2 separate regions of the Homo sapiens genome follow, and region 1 is linked to region 2. Evidence: fine-mapped expression QTL. Tissue or cell type: tibial artery. Region 2 holds a variant in brackets; the other region holds the start of a gene. All regions are shown on one strand. Distances are between the middles of the regions.

What was found. PIP is the estimated chance that this variant, and not a neighbour inherited with it, causes the effect.
Region 1: ATF7IP2 starts here. The variant in region 2 is fine-mapped to the expression of ATF7IP2 in tibial artery (GTEx, PIP above 0.99).

Annotation. Positions count from the first base shown.
Region 1 is chr16:10,381,997-10,390,178 of GRCh38, reverse strand. It overlaps ATF7IP2 (activating transcription factor 7 interacting protein 2), which reads right to left and starts at 4,118. Exons shown (of 14, transcript NM_001393719.1): 1 at 4,057-4,118. RefSeq lists silencers at 4,240-4,379, 7,425-7,494 and an enhancer at 7,695-7,764.
Region 2 is chr16:10,487,219-10,495,400 of GRCh38, reverse strand. No RefSeq gene overlaps it. Among named protein-coding and RNA genes, the nearest start is that of LINC01290, 37 kb to the left of the region's middle. The variant A/C (reference allele first, on the strand shown) is at 4,947.

The DNA of each region.
Region 1 (8,182 bases), 110 kb after region 2:
TCCAGTGATGTTCTCCAAGGTAGTATCTTAATACATAATAAACACTTTAATAAGAACAATTCTCATTAAATTAAAAAAAACTACTGAACTGAATTTTTACTGTTACTCTTTTTAAAAAGTAAAAATTTAGAAAAAACCCATTTAACTAATCTTGTTCAAAGTCAGGTACTTCAGCCAATATTTGAACGGAGGGTCTTAAGACTCGAAGAAGTCTATCACAAACACAAAACAGTTATTATGAAGCGACAGGGCCCTTTAAGAGTTATATAGTGGTTAACAAAATAACAAAACTCAGGCCAGGTGGCAGTTAATCTCATAATGACCATGAAGTAATGCCAAGTGTGGTTCATAGACCAGCAGCATCCGCATCACCTGAATGCTAATAGAATTCTGACATTACTTTTTTCAAGTTTTATCAATGTAATAGTATAAAATGCTCATTATGAAATAAAGCAGTTGCTTGCCAGCACTCCCGAATATCTAATGGCAATCACTTTAATTTTAACAACTTGTTTTTAAAATCTCAGTATTTTAAAATATTTTCATACTGTTTCTTGAGTTACAAATTTTAGCCATGTCGATTTCCTGTAATTGCAGATGAAGATTTAGCTCACATATGTATTTTTTTTGGAGGTGGGTTGGAAACATTTTAATTGGATGGTAGGGGATGGTAACACTGGACGGGGAGCACTCACAGTTCCAAGAGTTTCCCTCCAAATTATAAAGACGTTCTTGTAATTAGCTAGATTTCCTATAGCCAGGTCTTATGCCCAAGGGAAGGAGGGGAGGATGTGAAAAGCACTGTGGTCTGCCCTCCTGTCATTCGTAGATCCAGTTCTGTAGTTCACACGTCTCTTACAGCTCATCGTATTTTCAGTTAAATCAATATTTAAGTTGTTATAAATATTCTCTATATAGCCAGATAGACTACCATGACTACACTATCTTTCTTTCACAGTAGTTTGTCTTTTCCTGGAGATATCAACTGAACCTTCTTATAAACCTAACCTTCACTTTCCAAATTGACCAGAACTGTCATATTATCAACCTTCCCTCCTAGTCTATGCTCTTTCAAGATCAAGCTTAAAGATCACCTCCTCAAAAAAACAGCCCCGAGAGAACTACTACTTCTTTATCTAAATTTCCCACTATAATTTTTTTTTTTTTTTGAGACAGTCTTGCTCTGTCGCCCAGGATGGAATGCAGTGGTGCGATCTCGGCTCACTGCAAGCTCCGCCTCCCGGCTTCACGCCATTCTCCTGCCTCAGCTTCCCGAGAAGCTGGGACTACAGGCGCCGGCCACCACGCCCGGCTAATTTTTTTGTATTTTTTAGTGGAGACGGGGTTTCACCATGTTAACCAAGATGGTCTCAATCTCCTGACCTCGTGATCCACCTGCCTCAGCCTCCCAAAGTGCTGGGATTACAGGTGTGAGCCACCGCGCCCGGCCTACAAATATTTTTTATATCTTCAGTGACATGCCTTTCTTACAGTAGTTTTAATGCTGTTTAATGAATATTCACTTAAAAAACAAACCTCTGGAAAGCCACCCAGAGTTATTCTCTCCTTAATAACAAGTACTGAAAAGCCTCCCAAAGTCACTGTCTCCTTAGTAAAGAGTACTAAAAAGGCCTTGGCAACTTTTGCCATGGCTATCTGATAAGCTATTTCACATCAGCATACTGTACACACTAGAGCCTCAGAGGTATACTAATGAAACTTATGACCACATTTAGTAGACACATATAATGCCTCTAAATAATTCATGGCTAACTTCAGTAACACCTCTCTAAACATTTCATGGCTTAATCAGAAGTTCAAAAAAATCCAATATATTATCTCCCTTTCCTCCAAAAAGTCATGGTTATTTCTCTCTAGACACTGGCTGACTCCAATCTGTCCCATCGTTGGTAAAAATGAAGATGAAAAACTATCCTAGTCTACTGTAAAGCAGAATAATTATCTAAATGATATAAAAATATGAGATAGGCCGGGCGCTAAGACTAGCGCCTGTCATCCTAGCACTTTGGGAGGCAGAGGCGGGCTGATCACCTGAGGTCAGGAATTCGAGACCAGCCTGGCCAACACGGTGAAACCCCATCTCTACTAAAAATACAAAAACTAGTCGGGCGCCTATAATCCCAGCTACTTGCAAGGCTGAGGCAGGAGAATCACTTGAACCCGGAGGGAGGAGGTTGCAGTGAGCCGAGATCGCGCCACTTCACTCCAGCCTGAGCCAAAGAGCGAATCTCTGCCTCACAAAGAAAAATAAATAAGTAAAATAAAATAAAATAAACGAGATAGATAAGTCACCGCAGTGTGTGTGTGTCCGGGTGGCGGGGGGAGGGGGGGGGAGTAAAATAGACTGACATAGAATGAGAGAATAAGATTTTTTGGTATTTTGTATCATCTCGCTCAACAATGAGAACTAATACTCTTGCGCATTTAAAGTTGTATTTTATTTTTAACTATCCAATATATTAAACTTTGATTACATCAAATGAAATAGATTGTGCACACTCACTATAAGAGAGCTATGATATATGCAGAAGCAAAGGTGCAGGGATCATGCAATAGTTTCGTACCAGATTTCAAGATACCAAGTAGCAAGGAAACACAATGGAATTGAAGGCTGAGGTGAAGTACAGGCATAAGGCAAGGAAAGCAGAACATTCAAGATGTACCTATATACACCAGTTCTTAAAACACGCAAATCATTTCCAATAAGGCACTGGCTCATGTATTTCTGTTGAGGCAGAAGTCAATCTTAGGATGTGGTCTGTACATATCTGCAGATAAGACTGAGAGTGAAGTAAATTTGATTAAGATCGGAGTCAACACTTCTACAAACGTATTGCAGAATAAACGAGCTAAGAAGAAAGGCATACTTCACAAAAGCTGAATTCAGTGTTATTAGTCCTTCATTCAGATGCTTCATTTTTGCATTTTCAATTGCTTTCCTGTGATATAACTTATCTTTATCTTGGTCTTCCCCATTTGTTTTGCAAATAGTTATGTCGCAGGTCATTTACTGGCTACAATAAATATGACAAAATCATAATAAAAACAGTATTAAGTCGCAATCTAGAATAACAATTTAAGTGAATATGACATAATTTTTCTAATGTGGACTATTCAGTACAACTGTCCTCTTCTTCCATACATATTAACCATATGCAAGTCTTCAGAACAGAAAAAGCCATTGTGTCGTAAAGGAAGGAACACGTGGTTAGAAACTTCATTTTCAACACAGAAACACGGAAAGGTAGAAAGTCCGTTTCCTTAAGTGCGGTAAGGTTTTAACAAAAATAAGGCAAAAAAAATTATTGCGTCCTCTCTTTCTCAAACTTGCTTGCCAAACTTGGAGAAAACTGGTTAGAGAAGGGCGATAAGATGGAATTTTCTTAAAAACATATTCATAAAAACGAACTTCTACCTTAAGGAAATCGTCTTCCTTAAATCCTACCATCCTTACACCGGCAAGCTCAGAGGTACGGGATTTCAGCATTTTACTCAGAATTTTGTATTTTTCCTGATGCTCTGGTCCCTACTTTTTAACAAACTTCAAGGCCGCCAGGCGAGATCCAGTTGCCTTCTGGCACCTGACTTCATTAGATGATTAAAACAACTCAAGAAAATTTGGCAATGGGACACTAAAATTGGTGGAGGTGGAGATTTATCCGTTAATTTCTGAAAGCATTCCGGACAAGAGCGAGCTTTTACTTACCCCTCAGGACAAAAAACACGCACCACTTCCCTCCGCAGTCCCTAACCCCAGTGCCGCCCGGACCTGAGGCCGCACACCACTCCCGCTTCACCAGTATCCCTCTGCGAAAACGGTGGAGACGCGCCCGTCCGCCCCTCAGGGGCCTCTTCCCGGACCTGTCAGACGGCCCCGCGGACGCTTTTCAGTCAGGGCAGCTTCGCCGCAAACGTCCGGTAGGCCCGGCGCTCCGAGGCCTCCGGGGCCGGCCCTCAGAGAGGCGACCGACGCTCCTAGAGCCGCCACCCCGCCAATCGCCGCTCTCGCAGGACACTCGCCCGGCCCCAACGTACCTAGAGCGACGACGCACCAGCCGCAGCAATACCCACAGCCACTTCGAACCGCAGCCGTTAACAATGCTGGTCCGGCCAGGACCTGCTGAAGTAGGTCTCCCTACGCCCACCCCCAGCTGATTATGGACCAATGGCAGCGCGAATATGCGGCAGCCCAGCCAGTCAGGCACAGCCAGCTAGAGTGGGCGGGGCGAAGGGTCGCGAGGGGAAATGGAAGTAGGCTGAGGGGCGCCTGGGGTTCGCCTCCGTGGGCGCTTCTTCCGGTCAGCCACCGGGGCTTACCCGCCATAGCGCAGATGCAGGCTCCTGAGCTGGGCCTTTCTTTTGAGTGACTCGTGTGAAGATTTAGACTTTCGAAACTTATTAGGAATAAGACCTTATTTACAAAAACAACTCCTCACCCGGTCGGTAGTTTCCGATTTGAATTTTCTAATATTGTTTGAAAATATTTATCTTATTTACTTTTTTGGACGACTCCTTAAATTTTGTGACTCAGGAGATTGGTCCTAGCACCGTAGTCTTTTTTTTTTTTTTTTTTTTTTGAGACGGAGTTTCGCTCTTGTCGCCCAGGCTGGAGTTCAGTGGCGTGATCTCAGCTCACTGTACCCCCATTTCCCACCTCCCAGGTTCAAGCGATTCTCCTGCCTTAGCCTCCCGAGTAGCTGGGACCACAGGTGTGCACCACCATGCCCGGCTAATTTTTGTACTTTTAATAGACATGGGGTTTCACTATGTTGGCCAGGCTGGTCTTGAACTCCTGGACCTCAGGTGATCCGCCACCTCTGCCTCCCCATATGTTGGGATTACAGGCATGAGCCACTGCACCCACCCGCACCATAGCCTTGAGTTTGCTAAATTGTCCCAGGAACCTGCCAGCCTTGGCTGCTTGTGATTTCATGAGGCCCGATGCCTTAGGTGGCTGTGCACTTGGATGCCATGAACTCACTCAACAGGTGGTCACTGAATGCCCACTGTGTAGAAAATACAGGAAATACAACAGTAGATTAGATCCATAATGCCCTCTTTTTCATTAATTAATTTATTTATTTATTTGACAGAGTTTTGCTCTTGTTGCCTAGGCTGGAGTGCAATGGCGCGATCTCGGCTCACCACAACCTCCGCCTCCCGGGTTCAAGCGCTTCTCCTACCTCTGCCCCCAACAAGTAGCTGGGATTATAGGCATGCGCCACAGTGCCTGGCTAAGTTTTTTTTTTATTTTTAGTAGAGACGGGGTTTCTCAATGTTGATCAGGCTGGTCATGAACTCCCGACCTCAGGTAATCCACCTGCTTCGGCCTCCCAAAGTGCTGGGATTACAGGCGTGAGCCACCACGCTTGTCATGAGGCTAGAGCTGCCTGCCTTGTCACTTCCAGTTAGGAGAAAAATGAGGCAAGTCCGGACAATCTAGGTTGGGTCATCAATGGAATAACATACTCCAACCAGCCAGTTCCCCAAATATGCTCCAGGGATCTAGGGGTAATCTTTAATGTCAATCCTATTTTTATAATTATACTATTTTTATAATAATATAAAGATGATTTTGCTTTTTTCATTCTCTGAGTCAGGAGAGTACATGGAATTTTCTAGAAGCCTCTGGAAAATCGACGGGTGATATTGCTACAGATTGAATACAGAAGCAGACATGAGAATCTAACTACCAACCTGGGCAACAAAGTGAGATACCCACTTTTCTAGAAAAGTAAAAATAAAAAGTTAGCTGCATCCTTCCACCTACACGGGAGGCTGAGAGGACGGGAGGATCGCTTAAGCTTAGGAGTTAGGGACTGCAGTGAGCTGTGATAGTGTCACTGCACTCCACCCTGGGTGATAGAGCAAGAGACTGTCTTAGAAAAGAGAGAGAGAGAGGCCAAGCGCAGTGGCTCACATCTGTAATCCCAGCACTTTGGGAGGCTGAGGCAGCCGGATCATGAGGTCAATAGTTCGAGACCAGCCTGGCCAACATAGTGAAACCCCATCTCTACTAAAAATACAAAAATTAGCCGGGCATGGTGGCGCGTGCCTGTAATCCCAGCTACTCGGGAGGCTGAAGCAGGAGAATCGACTGAACCCGAGAGGTGGAGTTTGTGGTAAGCCAAGATCGCACTACTGCACCCCAGCATGGGCAACAGAGTGAGACTCCGTCTCAAAAACCAAAAAAAAAAAAAAAAGAGAGAGAGAGTCTTACTGTATTAAGTCAGACGTTAAGGAAATTAGCAAAAATGTAAAACAATCCTAATCTTTGCACATTTTTTGTTGTTCTAGAACATGATTTTGAAAATAATTATAGGGTTGCTAAGAGAGATAGTGTGGGAGGGAGTGGGAGGTAGTAAGTTGCAGTCAGATAAGGAATTTGGACTTAATTCAGTTAACAGTGAGTAACTAGCCTTTAGAAATGTTATGTCTATTTAAGGTACTAGGATATCTTGTATGTCATTTTAACAATAGTAATATAATAGGCCAGGTGGACACCTGTAATCCTAGCATTTTAGGATGCCAAGACCGACAGATAGCTTGAGCCCAGGAGTTTGAGACCAGCCTGGGCAATATAGCGAGACCCCATCTCTATAAAAAAATTATAATAATTGATATTTACTGGACATTATGTTAATAAAGTTTATTGTTGGCTGGGTGCGGTGGCTCATGCCTGTAATCCCAGCACTTTGGGAGGCCAAGGTGGGCAGATCACTTGAGATCAAGACCATCCTGGCCAACATGGTGAAACCCTGTCTCTACTAAAAATACAAAAATTAGCTGGGCATGATGGTGCGCACCTGTAGTCCCAGCTACTTGGGAGACTGAGGTAGGAGAATTGCTTGAACCTGAAAGAAGGAGGTTGCAATGAGTCAAGATCACGCCACTGCACTCCAGCCTGGTGACAGAGCGAGACTCCATCTCAATAAATAAATAAATAAATTCATTCACATAATGTGCTATATGAAGTACTATGAAGTCTCTCAATTTGCTGTTTGACTTTTTAAAATAATGCTTAACATAATAACAGATACAGTTGCTTGTACATTTCCTGACTTATAGTAGACACTTGATGTATAGTAACTATTATTATTAAAATTAATAAAGCTGAGAATATCAATTATCTTGAGTAAATTCTTTACATTTTTGTGTTGGAATGCTTTCTTGTTTGATAGTTTTCTTCCATTGAGGATTGTGGCGGGCAGAATTTGTACTCCCATGATCTTTGTCTCCTAGTGTGCGTCTTATGGTTATAAGTCACCTTACATGGCAAAAGGGACTTTGCAAATATGATTAAGGTTGTAATCAGCTGACCTTAAGATGGAGAACTTAACCGGGATTTCCCTGGTGAGTACAGTGTAATCACGTGAATCCCTAAAGGCAAAAGACAAGTCACACAGATGCAGCAGAAAGGAAAGTCATAGATTTTCAAAGCACAGGCAGAACTCAGCCCATGGTTCCTGGCTTGAAGATGAGGGGGACCACATGTAAACCTTGAGAATGAAAGTAGTACTGCCAACGACCTGAATGAACCCAGAAGCAGATTCTTCTGCAGAGCCTTAGCTGGCTGACAGCCTATTGAGACCCTAAGCAGAGTTCCCAGCTGAGTCCACTGTGCTTCTGACTTCTATATAGAACTGTGAGATAAGTGGGTAGTGTTTTAAGCCATTATGTTTGTGGTAACTTTTTATGGCAACAATAGAAAACAAATGCAAGCATTCATTCCACACACTTCTCAGCACTCCCTAAGGCAAGGCGGAAACCCTATGAACTACATTTCCCAGGAGCCCTTGCCTCCTGTATTCTGGATTCAGTTGTGTTTTACCCAGTGTAATGCACTTCCTGAAATTTGAAAAGTGGCAGAGATACATGTTATTGTGGGTTTTTTCCTTAGGCTTTGGCTCTCTTTCGCACCAGTCCCTGTCTCAGTTATTTAAAGGCAGCTGTGACAACAGTGGTTTTCTGAACTTTTCTGCCCTTTGGGCAGCAGAAGCAGCACCCTTCTTATTCTCTGGACCACAGAGGCAGCAGCACAAATGAAAACCAATGTGAGGCTGGGCGTGGTGGCTCACGCTTGTAATTCCAGCACTTTGGGAGGCCGAGGCAGGCGGATCACCTGAGGTCAGGAGTTCAAGGCCAGCCTGACCAACATGAT
Region 2 (8,182 bases):
TGGAACTGACTTTCAGACCCAAGGGTGTATTTGTGAAGTCCATATTCTAGCACACACCAGTAAATGAGATATGCTGCTTTCCAGGATAGGTTGGGAAGCTACTGCCCTCCTCAATTCCTCAGAGCAAGGTTGTTCTTCCTGTGTCCTGGGAGTCCCCGTTGTCTCAGGCAGGGAGCTACAGAAAGTTACAAATAATTTTTTGGTGCTGCAAAAGAAATAGCACTGGAACATAAATTTAATTTTCTCAGCAAGGCAATTTTACTTCTATAGAAGGGTGTGACTCACGGATGGAGCAATGGCGAGAGCGCACCTGAACAAGGGAGGAGAAGGGGTTTTTATTCCTGACGCAGGTAGCCCCTACTGCCACGTCCCCTATTGGCTAGGGTTGGACCTCACAGTCTAAGCTGATTCTGACTGGCTATTTTAAAGAGAGCAGGGGTATGAACTGGAGTGGTGGAGTAAGTAGTTTGGCAGGAAGGGCAGTTACAGAACAGGTGACTCAGGATAATTCGGGACACAGCAGGTGACCAGGGGTGACTCAGGATGGAGCAGGTGACCAGGGGAACAGATGTGAACTACTGATTAAAACTGGAAAAGGTTGTCTACTGAAACTAGGGGTGAGGAGAATGAGGAAGTTAAACTATAAAATGGAGAATAAAGAACTGAACATACTGACATACTGATTCTTTGAAGAGAAATTTAGAACTCACTGTATTCAACAACTTCATCCTCTTGAATTTTACTTTCTCTTCAAACTTCCTTAACGTGTCTTGGGTTAGTTGTTCTGCCTGATTCTCTAAAAGAAGAAGCTTCTCTGAATAAAGTGGAGGAGAGTTAAGGGAGGTTTTAGTAAGTGCTGTCTCTATGACTCTCTGCACCAGCCCACGGATGCATGGTATGACACAGCACCCAACAAGAATGAGTACACCTATTACAGCTGCAAGAGAAGTAAGAATTGAGGCTATGATTTCTTTCCATTTACCGAACCACCTTTCTAGCCGCCCTGAGAAATGGTTATTTACTCCTGAGTTTTTGGCTAATTCATTGGACAGAGCAGTTAGACTTTGCAATGCCTTTGTTATACTTCCATCAGGGGCGGTATTGTTTGGGATGAAGGTACAATATTGAGGGTTTTTTTGTTTTGTTTTGTTGTTTGTTTGTTTTTTTATTTGAGATGGAGTCTTGCTTTTGCTCTGTTGCCCAGGCTGGAGTGCAATGGCGTGATCTCAGCTCACTGCAACCTCCATCTCCTGGCTCCAAGCAATTCTCCTGCCTCAGCCTCCTGGGTAGCTGGGATTACAGGTGCACATCACCATACCCAGCTAATTTTTGTATTTTTAGTAGAGACGGGGTTTCATCATATTGGTCAGGCTGGTCTTGAACTCCTGATCTCATGATCCACCCACCTTGGCCTCCCAAAGTGCTGGGATTACAGGCATGAGCCACCGTGCCTGGCAACTACAATACTGAGTTTTAATCATGACACAAACTCCTCCTCTTTCTGCTAATATCATATCTAAGTCTATTCTATTTTCCCAAGCTATCTGGCTGGTAGCCCCTAATTGCTCAGCTATTCGTTTAACAGCATCTCTAGTGTAGTTAATAAACTGCTGTTTGTTGTAATAAATGTAATTTATCCAGTCTACATTCTTATTGGCACCCACCAAAATATTGACTCAACTCCTGCAGCTATTTGATCTTGAGCTTTAAATTTATCTAGTACTCCTTGTGGGACTCTAGCTGCATCTAAATAAACATGAGAGTTGAAAGACCCATAAGGGTCTTCCCTTGTTTTACGATGTTGTGTTTTCCCTCTCTCTGGTTGATGAAATGCCAGGGTGAAAGGGATAGCCAGTTGGACTAGAGCACAAGTCCCGCTCCAGTTACTTGGCAGAGTGTCCAGTAAAGGTCCACCACAATACTGCCACACATCTGCTCGGGGATGACTAAGGCTGACTGATTGGTAAGCTCCTGAAAAGTCTCGTGTCCTTTCAGGTCTCCAAGGAATAAGTTCCCTCCTTGTCGTGAAAGACACGAAGTGAACTTAGTGTTGGGAGATGGAGGCTGGATGGCCCTCAGAGGCTGACCAGCAGGGTGTCGGACTTCGGGATATAGCAGAGAGACAGCTTGGCACGACTTGCTACCCCAGGCTGTGGGATCCTGGAAAAGAGCTACCATAGAGCCCATGCCTGGTCGACTGGAGGACCATCCTAGTGGAAAGCAGACAATCTGGGCCTCTGGCCTGTTGTGTGCCCAGGCATAACAATTGCTTTTGTTTAGCGTGCGAACAGAATATCGGATCCATTCCAACTAGGCATTTGCATGTTGATATCCTGTCTCTATTGCTAAAGTTTGTTTTAAATCATTTACTTCCTCAACGTCCACTTTGATCCTATCACTGGGTATATAACAAGAGAAGGTTTGTTTAGCAGAGAACTTAGGAGAGGGAGAAGGCCGTGCAGGAGGTGAGGAGGCAGTGAAGCACATTTCAAAGGATCTTATGGGGTCCTTCCCTGAGACTTCTGTTCCTATATCATAGAAACAGCTTAATGAAGGGGAAGACCTCTGGGGAGCAGAGATGGTCATCTGTACTGGATTATACTGGTTCAGCTGACAATGGGGAGGGTAACTTCTTTAGTAAAATGAACATATGGTTTTAAGAAGCTGCAAGTACTAGTTGGGGCGGTCCATCCTTGCTCTTTAGTATTTTGTAAAGCATTGGACCAACTTCGGCAGAGAAGCTCTTCTCTAGGAGGACGGGATTCCCAGTTTATACTGGAAATCTTCGTCAAACTCTTCCCAAACTAACTTATCCCAGTTAACAGATTTCCGGTCTAAGGAGAGCTAGGAAGGATAAAAATACTTTTCTGAAGTGGAGAGTTGCCTCTGGTTTGGCAAATCTCCACAGGGCATCACAAGGCAAGCATCAAAAGTAATAGTTTGGGGTGAACTCGACCTAGTTACATTAATAACGAGAGGACTAGCAATAGGAGGGGAAAAGAAAGAGATGCAATATAAGAGGATCAACCCCGTTTTAGCTTTAGCTTCCTTGGAATTGGCCTTGGAATAGCTGTCTGTGATTTTGGAGGGGGTGTTGTTCTTTTGACCCAGGTGTGATGAGTCCATCCGTTTTCTGCTTTTCGAACTGAGATCTCGGTGGTTTGCAGCACTAGGTAGGGTCCTTCCCAAGCCAGTTTGAGTTTTCCCTCCATCCAACTTTTGACGAGGTCGTGGTCCTCAGGCTGATGGTGGTGTACTGGAAACTCTAGGGGTGGCACCTGTGCTAAAAGACCTTTAGTTCTGGGGGAAGAGACAGTGGAAGGTAAACCAAGTATATAATTTCTGAGAAACTGATTGTTTGTTTCAAATGTAGGAAGATCAGTAATAGAATGTAGATAAGGCAATCCATAAAGCATCTCATGAGGGGATAGGCCTATGTCTTTGGGGGGAGCAGTTCAGACTCTCAACAGGGTAATAGGCCTTTCTACTTTCCCTGATGAAGGTGGGTGTCAAGGAGTATCTTCCCATGTTATATCTGGTACCTGTGCTAATTTCTTAATGACATGTGCAGTGAAATGAATCCTATTATCTGAATCAATGTTTTCTAATAATCTAAACATGGGTACAATATTTTCAACTAATGCCTTGACTACATTATTAGCAGTTGTACTTGAAAAGGAAATAGCTTCTACCCAATGAATAAGGTGATCTACTATTACTAATAAATACTTTAGATGACCAGTTGGAGGCATCTCTGTGTAATCAATCTGGATACTTTGGAATGGCCTTAAGCCTGGACTCCTTTCCCTAAAGGGGAAGCTTTTACTGTGCAACTTTCTGTAACCCATTTGGCCAGGGTATAAATTTCTATCCACCCATAAACTCTGAGGACTGCGTCACACATGACCTGGGGCCCCCAATGGTTCCCTTGATGCAGTTGGAACAAGATTTTCCTCATAAGGGGTTTGGATAACATTTCTTTCTGGTCTGGCAATATCCATTTTCTTTCTGAATTCTCTTTAGCACCTATTTTTATTAGTTTTTAGACCAAAGAAAGCCAAACAGCATTTTATATTTGACAGTGCTTCCTGTATGATTTTATACTGGATAAGCTACATTTCACCTTTATATTAATGTGCTATTAATGTTAAACTCAATTTTAATAAAACCTTGTGACATATTTATGCAATTTTAATGTCTGACCATAAGGTAAGATTTTTATAGACTCTTTTAAACCCTTTATAATTTTTGTTAAAGACCAGGTTAGTGCTTTAAGAAAAACCTGTTGTGCTTTTATTTTAATGCCCAGTTCACAGAAAAACTGGATGATACCCCTTTAACTTTAATATGTTTACACACAGAATTTCCTTTACAATTAATGTTTCAAAACTTCCTTAAATTTTCAAAACAATTTTTAAACTTTTAATGTAGGTAAAAATCCACATTCTTATGCCACCTTATAATCCTTTTACCAAAAGTATATTTTATTTTTCTTACACACCTTGCACATAAACTGTTTCTTCAATAGTTTTACATTCAGGAGGCCTAATTACTTTTAAATTATACAACATTTCTGGCATAAATTCCCTTTTATAACATTTTTCATGACTTTCACAGACAATCTTTAACATGCCTTAACTTTCTGACTTGTTGTAAACATCCTTTTCTTTCAACAACCAGTTAATTTATTTTAGGACAAGAATTTACCATATAAGATTGTTTTTACATAAATTCTTTTTTTTTTTTTAATGTCAGAGATGATAACCATTCTTTCCTAAAGCAAACTTCCTTCATGTCTGTGGACTAGACTGCCTACGGCACAAGATTAAAAGTTAGGATAATACATGTTACACTGTTAACTTTTAGCAAACTTTCCTTTTGTTGAAAACCTTGTAAATTTGGGACTTTAATTAAAGAAAGGCTTTTTCTGGTGTCTGGGGACATGG[A/C]CAATAGCTATTTCTTTTGGCAATTGAAGGTTATTTAATACTTGGGTGATTAATTCCTTGGGGACCAGGTCTTGGCCTTTGCTATTAATAAGACCTCGTTCAGTCCAAATTTTTCCAAATCTATGAGCCACTCCAAAGGCATGCTTAGAATTGGTATAGATGGCTCTTTCCTGGTTCTGTAAGTGCTTTAAGGCTTGGCTGAGTGCAAACAGCTCACAAGTTTGAGCAGACCAATTATTAGGCAAATTTCCTAACTCTATTTCTACAAGAGTTTCTCTGTCAATTACTGAACACCTATTGTGTCTTTTTCCCTCAATCATCTGGGAGGAACCATCTGTAAATAAGTGTTGTCCTGTTCTGAAGGGAGTTTCTCCTAGGTCTGGTCAGATCTTTGTATGGTAATTAATTACATCTAAACATGTGTGCTCTCTCTTTAGATTTATATCCCCTGTTAGGAAACCTGCTGGGTTAAGCGAATTATCAGTGGTTAATGTTAAATCATCTTTTTCTAACAGAATAGCCTGATTTAAGATTCTTGAGTCAGTAAGCTACCTTTGTTTTTTGACCTAGGATAGTTCTGACCTGGTGAGGTGTGCTCACAATGAGGATTCCTCTAAAAGTTATTTTTCTACTTTCTTCTGTTAGCACAGCAGTTGCCACTATAGATTGAATGCATTTGGGCCATCCACGGGTTACTGGATTAAGGATTTTTGATAGGAAGGCTATGGGTTGCCAGTGGCCTCTGTGCTTTTGGGTATTTCTAAGGCTACGCCCTTGTTCACACTGAAAAAAGATGGAATGGCTGCTTACAGAGGGTAAAGCTAGGACAGGGGCAGTTACTAATAGATGTTTTAACCTTTCCACCTATTGGATTTCTGGTAATTGCCAAATGGGGGGGTTTGGCCCATCTTGCGTGAACTTTTTGTATAAAAGCCTATCCATAGACGACAGTACCCGACTAATCCTAAAATTTTCTAAGTTCTTGTTTAGTCTCCGGCAGAGGCAAGGATATAATGCCTTCAATCCGATCAAGCTCAATGTACGGTTTACCTTTGCTAATTAAATGACTTGTTCTAATATTTGACATTTGGAGACTCTGTAAACCCTTGGGGTAAGACTGTCTATCCGTATTGCTATTTTTGACTGGAGTGAGGGTCTTCTTACTCAAAGGCAAATAGGTCCCGGCTGTCCTCTGCTAACGGACAAGCCCAGAATGCATCTTTTAAATCTATTACTGTAAACCATTGGTGACTGTATGGGACTCTACTGTTAATAGTATAAGCATTGAGAACAACAGGGTGGGTAGTTTGGACTATTTGATTAATAGCTCTAAGGTCTTGCATTAACCGGTATGACCCATCTGGCTTCTTTACAAGCAGTATTGGAGTGTTTTAGGGAGACATACGGGGTTTAAGAAGCCCATCACTGAGAAGACCTTCAATTATCAATTATAGGTTTTAAATTTATCCTGGCTTTTAAAAGAATAGGGTACCTTGCTTTCTCTTTACTACTTCCCCAGGGGTTTTTAATTTAACATGAATCTGAGGAATCTAACTTTCCTCAATTCCCATCTTTTGACGGTATCTCAGGATGAATGTGTTCTTTGTCTGCGGTGGTGAGCAAGTTTAGGGAGGGGAGGAATTTTCCATGATTGATTTGGAGGCCTAAGCCTAATTCTAGCATCAAACCTCTTCGTAGCAGATTTGTCTCTGCTTCTGGAATTAACAGAAATTTAATATTAGCTGATTTTCTTTTATATATGACCTTTGTTCTTCTTCCTATTTGGAACTTTCTCTTTTGAGGGTGACCTATTTTTAATTTGAAGCATTTGTTTTGTCCTCTTTCTCTCCCTTTGCCTCTCCTTCTCTCTTTGCCTGTCTCTCTGCTTCTCTCTCTCTCTTCTACTCTTTCTCTCACTCTGATTCCCTTTGCCTCTCTTTCTCTCTGCCTCTCTCTCCCTTTGACTCTCTGTCTCTCTCTTTCTTTCTCTCTCAGATTTTTTTTTCTTCTATCTTTGAGTCTCCCGGCTTTACTTTCATACCCTTTATATTGCCTGGAGAGTGGGGGTCTAGGTTTTTATAGGTTCTGGGCCCCTGGGTACTTTGTTGCATGGTGGGCAGAATTTTTGCCTTCTGCTTTTGTTTTTCTTCATCTCTTTATTTTTGAGACGGAGTTTCACTCTTATTACCCAGGCTGGAGTGCAATGGCATGATCTCAGCTCACCGCAACCTCCACCTCCCAGGTTCAAGCGATTCTCCTGCCTCAGCCTCCCAAGTAGCTGGGATTATAGGCATGCGCCACCACGCCCGGCTAATTTTGTATTTCTAGTAGGGATGGGGTTTCTACCTGTTGGTCAGGCTGGTCTCGAACCCCTGACCTCAGGTGATCCACCCACCTTGGCCTCCCAGAGTGCTGGGATTACAGCGCCCAGCCTCTTTGTCTCTTCTTACATAGACTTTTTGGGCTTCTCTTAGAAACTCTTCTATAGGTTTATCTTTCTAGTTCTCTTTCTTTTGTAATTTCTTGTTAATATCTGGCTGTTACTGACAAAATGAAGTTTTAACATTTCCTATGCAAGAGGGTCCTCGAGACCTAGACCAGTATATTTTCTCATTTGTTCCTTTAATCTGTCTAAAAATTCTATAGGCCCTTCATCTTTCCCTTGCTGTATATCAAATGTTCAGGTAAGATTCTGGGTTCGGGGTACAGATTCAACCCAGGTACAGATTCTGGGTTTGGGGTACAGGGACAAATCTATTAGGAAGAGATTTGATGCTAGAATTAGGCTTAGGCCTCCAAATCAATCATGGAAAATTCCTCCCCTCCCTAAACTTGCTCACCACCGCACATGAAGAACACATTCATCCCGAGATATGGTCGAAAGACGGGAATCAATTCTCTAAGGTCCTGCATATTTTCTCGGTGGGCTGTGTTGTTATTGTCCCACTGGGGGTCTTCGGTGGGAAATTTTTGATCTGTTGTAGGAATGTTTTGGCCAGGAGGGTGTTCACAGTTCCTAGGCTCCCATAACGGCTCTATGGATCGTGCCTCTTTCCTCCGAGTAGAGGGGAAAGGGAAATTCTGAATATCCTTTTTACATTGCTCTGTCTCGCGTTGAAGTCCTTTTAGGGAAAGGTACTTAGGCTGGTAGTGAGTGGGCTCTTGGGACGATTCCCAAGAGGCAGGGTTATAAGGAGGGGGACAACAGGGATAGGAGAAGGGTCTGGGACAGCAGC